Regions from separate parts of the Homo sapiens genome. Here region 2 is linked to region 1. Evidence: fine-mapped expression QTL. A gene starts in region 1. The other region holds a variant in brackets. All regions are shown on one strand. Distances are from middle to middle. Region 1 holds the start of OAS2 (2'-5'-oligoadenylate synthetase 2). Region 2 overlaps OAS2 (2'-5'-oligoadenylate synthetase 2).

The links.
Region 2: its variant is fine-mapped to the expression of OAS2 in whole blood (TOPMed, PIP above 0.99).

What each region holds. Positions count from the first base shown.
Region 1 is chr12:112,975,541-112,980,917 of GRCh38, forward strand. It overlaps OAS2 (2'-5'-oligoadenylate synthetase 2), which reads left to right and starts at 2,979. Exons shown (of 10, transcript NM_002535.3): 1 at 2,979-3,245. The coding sequence starts at 3,069. RefSeq lists enhancers at 2,524-3,333, 3,554-3,633, 3,804-3,883, 3,994-4,143.
Region 2 is chr12:113,005,044-113,010,420 of GRCh38, forward strand. It overlaps OAS2 (2'-5'-oligoadenylate synthetase 2), which reads left to right. Exons shown (of 10, transcript NM_002535.3): 7 at 1-179; 8 at 1,370-1,557; 9 at 2,662-2,900; 10 at 4,044-5,377. The coding sequence ends at 4,212. Among named protein-coding and RNA genes, the nearest start is that of OAS2, 29 kb to the left of the region's middle. RefSeq lists enhancers at 1,091-1,260, 1,693-2,892, 4,639-4,808. The variant C/T (reference allele first, on the strand shown) is at 2,545.

The DNA of each region.
Region 1 (5,377 bases):
GGGACACAGTGCTCACCATGAGTGGTAGGGCCCAGGATTGGCCAGGAGGGGCTGGCCTGCAGAACATGGAGATGACCCTTAAATCTTGGTGTTCATAGGGACAGACTAGATGGGCCACAAGCAGGCAGCTACTCAACTTACGCCATCAAAATACCTCAAGAATGAACGCCGAGGAAACTTCCCCCAGTAAAAACATCACCATTGCTTTCCTAGTGGGCTTCCCAGGAAACACGTCTGTCACATACGTCAGCTAAATGTCATGTGTGAGCCTAGATGTTGGCGGGGGTGCGGATGCTATAAAGAAGAGTATTGGAATCGTTGGTAAATTTTTCAATATAAGAATGTATTTATGGCTGGATGCAGTGGCTTACACCTATAATTCTACCACTTTGGGAGGCCGAGGCAGGCAGATCACTTGAGCCCAGGAGTTCGAGATCAGCCTGGGCAACATGGTGAGACCCTACCTGTACAAAAAAATACAAAAATTAGTCAGACATGGTGGTGTGTGCCTGTGGTCCCAGCTACTCAGGAAGCTGAGGCAGAAGAATCGCTTGAGCCTGAGAGGTTGAGGCTACAGTGAGCCGAGATTGTGCCACTGCACTCCAGCCTGGGTGACAGTGAGACTCTGTCTGTCTCAAAATATATATTTATACAATATTTATATAATAAACGTATATTTATTATATATGTTATATAAATTATATATTATATAAATTATACAAAATTATATTTATTATATATGTTATGAGATGATAGCATTGTATCAATGATAAAAGTCTGAATTGGACCATTGTTCTGTGCTTCTGTAACACAATATTCTTGCTCTTAGGAGATATAGGTTGAAGCATTTAGGAGTAAAGGGACATAAATCATGCAACATGCATTCAAATGGTTCAGGAATAAAAATACTCATGAAGGGCTGGGCGTGGTGGCTCAGGTCTGTAATCCCAGCACTTTGGGTGGCTGAGGTGGGAAGATCGCTTGAGGCCAGGAGTTCGAGCCCAGCCTGGGCAACATGGTGACATCATGACCCCCATTTCTACCAAAAAATTTTAAAAATTTAGCCAGGCATGGTGGTGCATGCCTATAGTCCCAGCTACTCAGGAGGCTGAAGTAGGAAGATTGCTTGAGCTTGGGAGGGTGAGGCTACAGTGAGCTATAATCACGCCACTGCACTCCAGCCTGGGTGACAGAGTGAGACTCTGTCTCAAAAACAAAACAAAACAAAAACCTCCTAAAATGTATAAATAGCAAGAAAATGAGGGGCAAATGTGGTAAAAAATATAATGGCTAAAAAGTCTAAGGAAGTTCTTTGTGTGCATCTTGTAAATTTTCTCAGCATTTCAAATTACTTCAAAATAAAGTGTTTTTTTAAATAACAAATAAAGCACAGGCTTTGGAGTCAGGCAGTGTGTTAGTGTGAGAACCTAGCCTGACAACTTCCTAGCTGTGTGATCACGGGCAAATGTTTCCACCTTTGTGAGCCTCCATGTTCTCATCTGAAAAAGGAACCTTAGGACTACGCCTGCCCAGCCTGCCTACCTCTCGGTGTTGCAGTAAAAGTTGGATAAGGGCAGGAAAGGCCCTTAATGAGCATGTGCATTAATCGAGGTTTTTCCAGAACTAACAGGGTATTTATATTTATTTTGAGGTATTTATTTTAAGGAATTGGCTCATGTGATTGTGGAGGCTGGCAAATCCAAAATCGGCAGGGTAGACTGGCAGGTGGGAGACCCAGGAAGGAGTTGCTGCTGCAAGTGGAGGCCAAGGCACTGCAGCCGAATTCCCTCTTCCTTGGGGGAGCTCAGTCTTTAGTCTATTAAGGCCTTCAACTGATTGAATCAGGCCCACCACCTTACAGATGATAATCCACTTTACTCAAAAAAAAAGTCTACCAATGTAAATGTTAATCTTATCTTTAAAAAATACCTTCACAAAAAGATCTAGGATAATGTTTGACCAAATATCTGGGTACCTGGGCTCAGCCAACTTGACACATAAAATTAACCATCCCAGTATGGAAGGGCCCTGGTCCCCCACTACATCTTGGAGATTTTTGCCTTCTCTGTGAATTATTATTGCTGGGCCAAGGCAGCTGGCTGGGAGTCCTCTGCGAGTTTTGTTTTCAAAGCTCTGGGCACAGGAGTTGCATGTCTGTCTCCTTTCTGGCTCACACACTTGGGGTGTGTTTTCTTGCCCTTGCGAGGCTGGACAAGTGCCTCATACGGTCCCTCGGCTGTCCACAAGTGTGCTGAGAAACTGGACACACAGAGGTTCCCACCCGCTGACCACACGGGGGCCTGTGTTTACCCAGAAGCAGACCAAAACCTGAGTCCAGCTAGGTCCCTGCTTTGCTGTGTGTCCCTGAGCAAGTCAGTTCCCTCTCTGGGTCTCTTTTTCCTCTCTGCCGCTTTCCCTGAATGTGAGTTCCCTGGCCACTGAGAACAGGGGGAAAGGGACAGAGCCTCAAAAGATGACCTGTGCGCCCCTGCTTCTAAGCACTTTGCAGGTATTATTTAATCATCAAGCTAATCCTACGAGAGAGCTGCCATTTTCCCCCAGCTTACAGATGGGGGAATTGAGGCGCGAAGAGGGCAGGCGATGTGCTCAAGGACAGACATCTAGCAGGTATGAAGCCCTCACAATGGGGTTCTAGAGGCTGTTTAGTTAACCTCAAGTTTTGGGGAGCCCCTGAAGGGCTGGTCACCACGCTGCCGGGGACAGGGAAAGCCTCTGAGCTTGAGTCAGTTTTGGTTTCCCTGCTGGGGTGCAGGAGTCAGTAAACCTTGCTGCAAGGGGCGGGGAAGAGCATTTGAGCTTAAGTTAGTTTTGGTTTCCCTGCCCCGGATGCAGGAGTTGGTAAACTCACTGCAAGGGGCAGGGCAGAGCCTCTGAGCTTAAGTTAGTTTTGTTTCCCTGTCCCGGATACAAGAGTTGGTAAGCTCGCTGCAGTGGGTGGAGAGAGGCCTCTAGACTTCAGTTTCAGTTTCCTGGCTCTGGGCAGCAGCAAGAATTCCTCTGCCTCCCATCCTACCATTCACTGTCTTGCCGGCAGCCAGCTGAGAGCAATGGGAAATGGGGAGTCCCAGCTGTCCTCGGTGCCTGCTCAGAAGCTGGGTTGGTTTATCCAGGAATACCTGAAGCCCTACGAAGAATGTCAGACACTGATCGACGAGATGGTGAACACCATCTGTGACGTCCTGCAGGAACCCGAACAGTTCCCCCTGGTGCAGGGAGTGGCCATAGTGAGTCCAGGGCTGAGGTTGGGTCTCTGGGAGGCAGGAGATTCCACGGCGGCAGCAAGGCCGAGCTACTGGGTGCTGGGTGCCTATTATGTGCGAGGCCCACACTTGGGTGGGATGTGGTGTAGGAGTCTCAGGCTCTGGAGCAGGCGCTTGCTCCAGAGCTGTGTGACACTGGGCAGGCTACTTAACCTCTCTGTGCCTCAGTCTCTGACTCTGTAAAATGGGGAGAGGCATAATACCCACTTCAGAGTATCGTAAGGCTTGAGCACATCATGTTCTTAGCAAAAGACTGGCAGTGCTCAGTGAATTCACTGTGATTACTCACTGCGATTTTCTTCTATCCTCTCCACAGTACAGAGGAGTAAACTTAGGGAGGCTAGAGAACTTTGTTCAAACTACCCAGGTTGCCTTGTGGTTTCTCCGCAGCAAGAAGGAGTGGCTTTTATCAGTTAGAAATATTTGGTTTTGTGGACACAAATCTCAGGACTGAGGCTGAAAATTCTGGACCTCTGGGGAGGAAGGGGGACTGGGGAGATGCCAGGACCCTAGAATTGGGGGCGTGGGGGTCCTGATGGCCCAATACTATCCTCTTAGCCTCCTGAGCTGCTGACGTCCCTTCTCTGCTGCTGCCACACTTTTTGGTCTCTACCCCTTGCACACATCCGCTAGTGCCTCAATAAAGAAATCTAGACACGTGGTGTCCCCAGCCCTGGCCCAGGCCAGCAAGCTAAGGCAAGTTTGGTTAATAGCTATTGTCAGAACTGGGATTTTAAGCCTGGGTAATTGGCTTGAGGGCATGCATGTTTAACCACTACACTATCCTGCCTCTCAATTTTTTTTTCCTCATGGAAGTAAAACAGAAAAAGTGCCCAGATCAAAGTGTCCAGCTTGATAGGTAGCCACAAACAATGTAACTGTGTAACCCCCACCCAGATCCAGAAACAAAACATTCTCAGCCCCCCAGAGCCCTGGGCCCCCGATCCAGTCAGCACCTCCAAACCCAGGTAGGCAATCTCCTGACTTCTAACAGCATAGACACGTTTTGCCTGTTTTTAAACGTTTTACAATTATAGGGTGACCAACTATCCCAGTTCATCCAAGATTGGGGTGTTTCCTGGGATGTGGGACTCTTGGTGTGAAAGCTGGGAATGTAAACCAGGATGCATGGGTGAACCCTACATAAATGGCATCATGGGCTCTGTGTGCTTTAGTGCGTGGTTTCTCTGACCTATGATGTTTATGAAATTTATGTTGTGGGGTACAGTTGTTTATCTTTTCATTGTTGTGTCAATTCCATTATGTGAATATTCCACATTTGTCCATTCTACTGTGTTTTTTTATTTTTACATAATTGTGCATATTTATATGGGGTACATGTGATATTTGGACACATGGATACAATGTGAAATGATCAGGGTAGTTAGGATATCCATCACCTCAAACATTGATCATTTATTTGTGTTGAGAACAGTTCAGATCTTCTCTTCTAACTATTTTGAAATATATAATAAATTATTGTTAACTATAGTCACCCCATTGTGCTATCAAACACTAGAATTTATCCCTTCTATCTAACTGTATGTTTGTATCCATTAACCAACTTCTCTTCATTTCCTCCTCTACTTCCCAGCCTCTGGTAACTATGATCCTACTCTCTACCTCCATGAGATCAACTTTTTTTAACTTCCACATAAACACATGCAATATTGTCTTTCTATGCCTGACTTATTTCATTTAACATAATGACCTCTAGTTCCATGCACATTGCTGCAAATGACAGAATTCCATTCTTTTTGTGTCTGAATAGTATTCTATTGTGTATATATACTACATTGTCTTTATCCATTCAGCTGCTGATGGATACGTTGGTTGATTCCATATCTTGGCTTTTGTGAATAGTGCTGCAATAAACATGAGGGTGCAGTTATCCCTTTTTTGGATAAATACCTAGTAGTGGGATTGCTGGATTGAATGGCAGTGCCATTTTTATTTTTTTTAGAAACCTCCATACTGTTTTCCGTAATGACTGTGCTAATTTACATTCCCACCAACAGTGTGTAAGATTCCCTTTACTCCAAATCCTTGCTAGCGTTTATTTTTTGTCTTTTTGATAATAGCTATTCTAACTGGGG
Region 2 (5,377 bases), 30 kb after region 1:
AATCGTCAAGGAAATCCATGAACAGCTGAAAGCCTTTTGGAGGGAGAAGGAGGAGGAGCTTGAAGTCAGCTTTGAGCCTCCCAAGTGGAAGGCTCCCAGGGTGCTGAGCTTCTCTCTGAAATCCAAAGTCCTCAACGAAAGTGTCAGCTTTGATGTGCTTCCTGCCTTTAATGCACTGGGTAAGGCTCCCCAGACCTTAGCTTGGAAGTGATGGTGGACAGAAGGTGGAGGGAGAGCCACGTGACTTGATTACGGGCTCTGAAAACATGTGCCACTCATGGGTCCCTGGCCCCAGCAAGTGGCATTAGTCATGGCAGTAATACTTCACACTTGTAGACAATTTTGGTCCCATTTCTCTTTTCCAAGCATGGGGCTGTGTGCCTATAATCCCAGTAATCAGGGAGACTGAGGCAGGAGAATTGCTTGAACCCGGGAGGTGGAGGTTGCAGTGCGAGATCGTGCCACTGCACTCCAGCCTGGGTAACAGAGTGAGACTCCGTCTGAAAACAAACAAACAAACACACAAACAAAACAAGCAGTTGGGCTGGGCATAGAGGCTCACACCTGTAATCCCAGTATCTTGGGAGGCCGAGGCGGGAAGATTGCTTGATCCAGGAGTTCGAGACCAGCCTGGGCAACATAGTGAGACTTCATCCCAAAAATAAATAAATAAATAAATAAATAAATAATAAACAAAGTTAGCCAGGCATGGTGGCACACGCCTGTAGTCCCAGATACCCAGGAGGCTGAGGTGGGAGGATTGCTTGAGCCCAGGAGATGGAGGCTGCAGTGAGCTGTGATCATGCCACTGCACTCCAGTCTGGGGCAACAGAGCAAAACTCTGTCTCAAAAAAGCAAAAAACAACAACAACAACAAAAAAAAAAAAAAAAAAAAAAAAAAAAAAAAACAAGAAGCAGCGCACCAGATTTAGCCCAGGGGGCGGTAGTTCACAAAGTCCAGATCAGTGTCGTCCCAGAGATCTTTCTGTGATCATGAAAATGTTCTATGTCTGGGTTCTACAACTACTGAGAGCTTGACATGTGGCTACAGCAACTGAGGAACTAAATTTTTAATTTTCATTCCCTTTAATGAATGTGAGTGCAAATGGCCACATTGCTGGTGGCTGCTCTGTTAGTTTAAGTCTAGATAATACTTTAATAATACCAGCTGCACCTGTGTAGACCACATAATTTTTACATATCTCATTATTCTGGAGATGCTCCCTGTGTCTTAGACATCAGTCTTTTAAATATGCTAATACTATTCACAGTAATTTCCAAGAATTAAATCATATTTGTCAAAAATGTTTTGGAATCTGTTACTTACTATGTGTATTAAAGCAGGATGTCAATCTCTCCCTCATGCCAGGTCAGCTGAGTTCTGGCTCCACACCCAGCCCCGAGGTTTATGCAGGGCTCATTGATCTGTATAAATCCTCGGACCTCCCGGGAGGAGAGTTTTCTACCTGTTTCACAGTCCTGCAGCGAAACTTCATTCGCTCCCGGCCCACCAAACTAAAGGATTTAATTCGCCTGGTGAAGCACTGGTACAAAGAGGTAAGGACAGTCTTTGTTCTGACCATGGGGTTATTATTTTTACCAGTAAGCCATGAACATTAAGCCCTGTTGCCCACAATCTCCCATGCTGAGGGCTGAGCCACTTTGGAGAATCTGCCCACTGGATATCTTTACGACGTTCCCATCACTAACCCTATTCATTTGGGTCAGGCGTTGATGGCTTCTGCCCATCAAAGCTGCTACATGTGGTTTACTTTGCCCTCACACTGGCCAAAGAATTCTGCAGGAATCCAAGTGACCTTGCCTACAGAGGGTGGGTGGAAGCTGGGATTCACATGCCCACACATTGCCAATAGGACTTTTCTGCTTCCCGGCGCACATGCTCTCTCTCAGAAGGCAGGTTGAAGCTGTAGGTGGAACCGGGGCTGCATTTTCTATACACCCAGCTCACAGGAGCTTGAACAACTGGTCAGCCCCTGAGCCCCTACTACAAGTGATCCTCAGGCAGGTAACCCCAGATTCATGCACTGTAGGGTGCTGAGCAGCATCCCTAGTCTCTACCCAGTTTCCCCTCACTTGCACACAAAGTAGCTTCTGAACATCCTCATGACAGTAAACATCAAGCACGATATCAGCTCTTCCTGAGATGCCTCCTTTCTGTGTCCAGCTCCCTGAAATGTGAAACCAAGACCAAACTCTGTAGTTTTCATCCCAGAAAATCAGAGAGCTGGCATGGCGTGTCAGAAGACTTGGGGCTGTGGCGTGACCTTGAGTGAGTCACTCCACTTCCCGCAGCTTCAAAGTCTTCATCTAAAATGCAGGTCATGCTGCCTGCATTGTGGGGAAGATTAGGAATGATGTGGGTAAATGCCTGGGCCCATAGCTGGCATGCAGTGGGTTTCTAGTAAACTGTAGCTATGTTATTGTCCTAGGAAGGCATATATGGTCAAAAGCACAACAAAGAAACTCAAATGTGCTGCTGCCAGGTGGACTCCTGTAGGCTGTACAATTTAGACATCCAAGCTG[C/T]AGAGTGTGAGCACACCAGCACGACACTGTGACTCAGTTGCCTTGCTGTGGTCCCTGTGCGGCTCTCACTGAGCTCCTAGGCTAACCAGTTCGTCTGATGTTCCCACTCTTACCTAGTGTGAAAGGAAACTGAAGCCAAAGGGGTCTTTGCCCCCAAAGTATGCCTTGGAGCTGCTCACCATCTATGCCTGGGAGCAGGGGAGTGGAGTGCCGGATTTTGACACTGCAGAAGGTTTCCGGACAGTCCTGGAGCTGGTCACACAATATCAGCAGCTCTGCATCTTCTGGAAGGTCAATTACAACTTTGAAGATGAGACCGTGAGGAAGTTTCTACTGAGCCAGTTGCAGAAAACCAGGTGCCTTCACCCTAGCCCCGTACTTTTCTTAACCTGATTCCCTTGAACACTGTCTCAGCAACCTGGATTTTCCTCTGCTGGGGTCACGATTCATTCCTTGCATGACGGGGGAAAGTGCTAGCCAACAGAACCTGTCACAGTCTCCAGGGATAAAACCTAGCAGGGGCAGGAGAAAATGCTGTTCAGAAAAAATAGAGAAGGAAGGTTCAAGATACCACGTCCCTGAGCTGCTTTCATCTAAGAGGTGTTAGAGTTGGAAGTGTGTCCCTAAGAATTAACGCTATCATTCACGGGCCGATTTATCCTGCAGGGTTTTTATTGGGTTAGGGTTTATCTACTCTTTCAGACCTTCAAGAATAGTAAGAAATCATATCCATCTGCTTAGGGCCACCAGCAAGGGACAAAAACAATGGAAACCAGAGGAAAGGAAAGAGAGAAAATAAAGGAGCGTTGAAAAAGAATAGAGGAGAAGTAAGAGAGAAGGAGACCCCCGGTGGGTTGCCTACCCTGGGTTCTTGGCAACATTGTATTTGATTAAATTATGTATCATATTTTAGCTGACATAGCAAGGAGGAGATATTTAGACTATGCCTTCATTATGCCTTCATGAGTATAGCAATTAACAGCTTTCAAAACGCTTTTGGCAAATACAATTTAATTCTAGGAAGTTGCTTTGGTTTTGGCTTTTGTTTTTGTTTTTGAGACAGAGCCTCACTCTGTCACCCAGGCTGGAGTGCAGTGGCACAATCTCAGCTCACTGCAACCTCTGCCTCCCGGGTTCAAGCTGGTTCTCCTGCCTCAGCCTCCGAAGTAGCTGGGACTACAGGTGCGCACCACCACGCCCAGCTAATTTTTGTATTTTTAGTAGAGATGGGGTTTCTGCATGTTGGCCAGGATGTTCTCGAACTCCTGGCCCTCAAGTGATCCTCCCACTTCAGCCTCCCAAAGTGCTGGGATTACAGGCATGAGCCACTGCACGCGGCCTCTAGAAAGTTACTTTGAACCCTACTAGTAAATTTGAGTTGCTGACATCTAAGCTGTAAGAACACATTGTCTTATTGCTGAAAGTATTATAGGATGGACCCCAAATTCTGAAGTCACTGGGATTTGGAATCTCCTAATGCCTTCTAACCTCTCATTCAGGCCTGTGATCTTGGACCCAGCCGAACCCACAGGTGACGTGGGTGGAGGGGACCGTTGGTGTTGGCATCTTCTGGCAAAAGAAGCAAAGGAATGGTTATCCTCTCCCTGCTTCAAGGATGGGACTGGAAACCCAATACCACCTTGGAAAGTGCCGGTAAAAGTCATCTAAAGGAGGCGTTGTCTGGAAATAGCCCTGTAACAGGCTTGAATCAAAGAACTTCTCCTACTGTAGCAACCTGAAATTAACTCAGACACAAATAAAGGAAACCCAGCTCACAGGAGCTTAAACAGCTGGTCAGCCCCCTAAGCCCCCACTACAAGTGATCCTCAGGCAGGTAACCCCAGATTCATGCACTGTAGGGTGCTGCGCAGCATCCCTAGTCTCTACCCAGTAGATGCCACTAGCCCTCCTCTCCCAGTGACAACCAAAAGTCTTCAGACATTGTCAAACGTTCCCCTGGGTTCACAGATCTTTCTGCCTTTGGCTTTTGGCTCCACCCTCTTTAGCTGTTAATTTGAGTACTTATGGCCCTGAAAGCGGCCACGGTGCCTCCAGATGGCAGGTTTGCAATCCAAGCAGGAAGAAGGAAAAGATACCCAAAGGTCAAGAACACAGTGATTTTATTAGAAGTTTCATCCGCAAATTTTCTTCCATTTCATTGCTCAGAAATGTCATGTGGCTACCTGTAACTTGAAGGTGGCTACAAAGATGACTGTGGACGTGGGTTGCACTGGCCACCCAAGGATGTCTGCCACACCTCTCCAAAGCCCTCCCTACCTACCAAGATATACCTGATATATTCCACCAGGATATCCTCCCTCCAGATATACTTGGTTCTCTCCACCAGGTTCTTTCTTTAAAGCAGGATTTCTCAACTTTGATACTTACTCACATTTGGGGCTAGACAGTTCTTTGTTTGGAGGCTCTCTTGTGCATTGTAGGATGTTGAGCAGCATCTCTGGCCTGTACCCAGTAGATGCCACCCAGTTGTGACAATTAAAAGTGTCTTGAGACTTTATCATGTGTCTTCTGCCCTAGGTGAGAACCCTTGCACTAGAGGAACCCTACACCCCAACCCTGGGGGGAATGTAGGGAAGAGGTGGCCAAGCCAACCGTGGGGTTAGCTCTAATTATTAAGATATGCATTATAAATAAATACCAAAAAATTGTCTCTGGCAATAGTTACCTTCCCAGATACAGGTCCCCCCTTTTTTCCCCTAACTCTTTTAAGCAATGATTGTAACTATTAGGAGACATTGCTCTCCCACGTATGTTTTTCTTTTTAGACAATGCAGACACCAGGAAGTTGTGGAGCTAGGATCCATCCTATTGT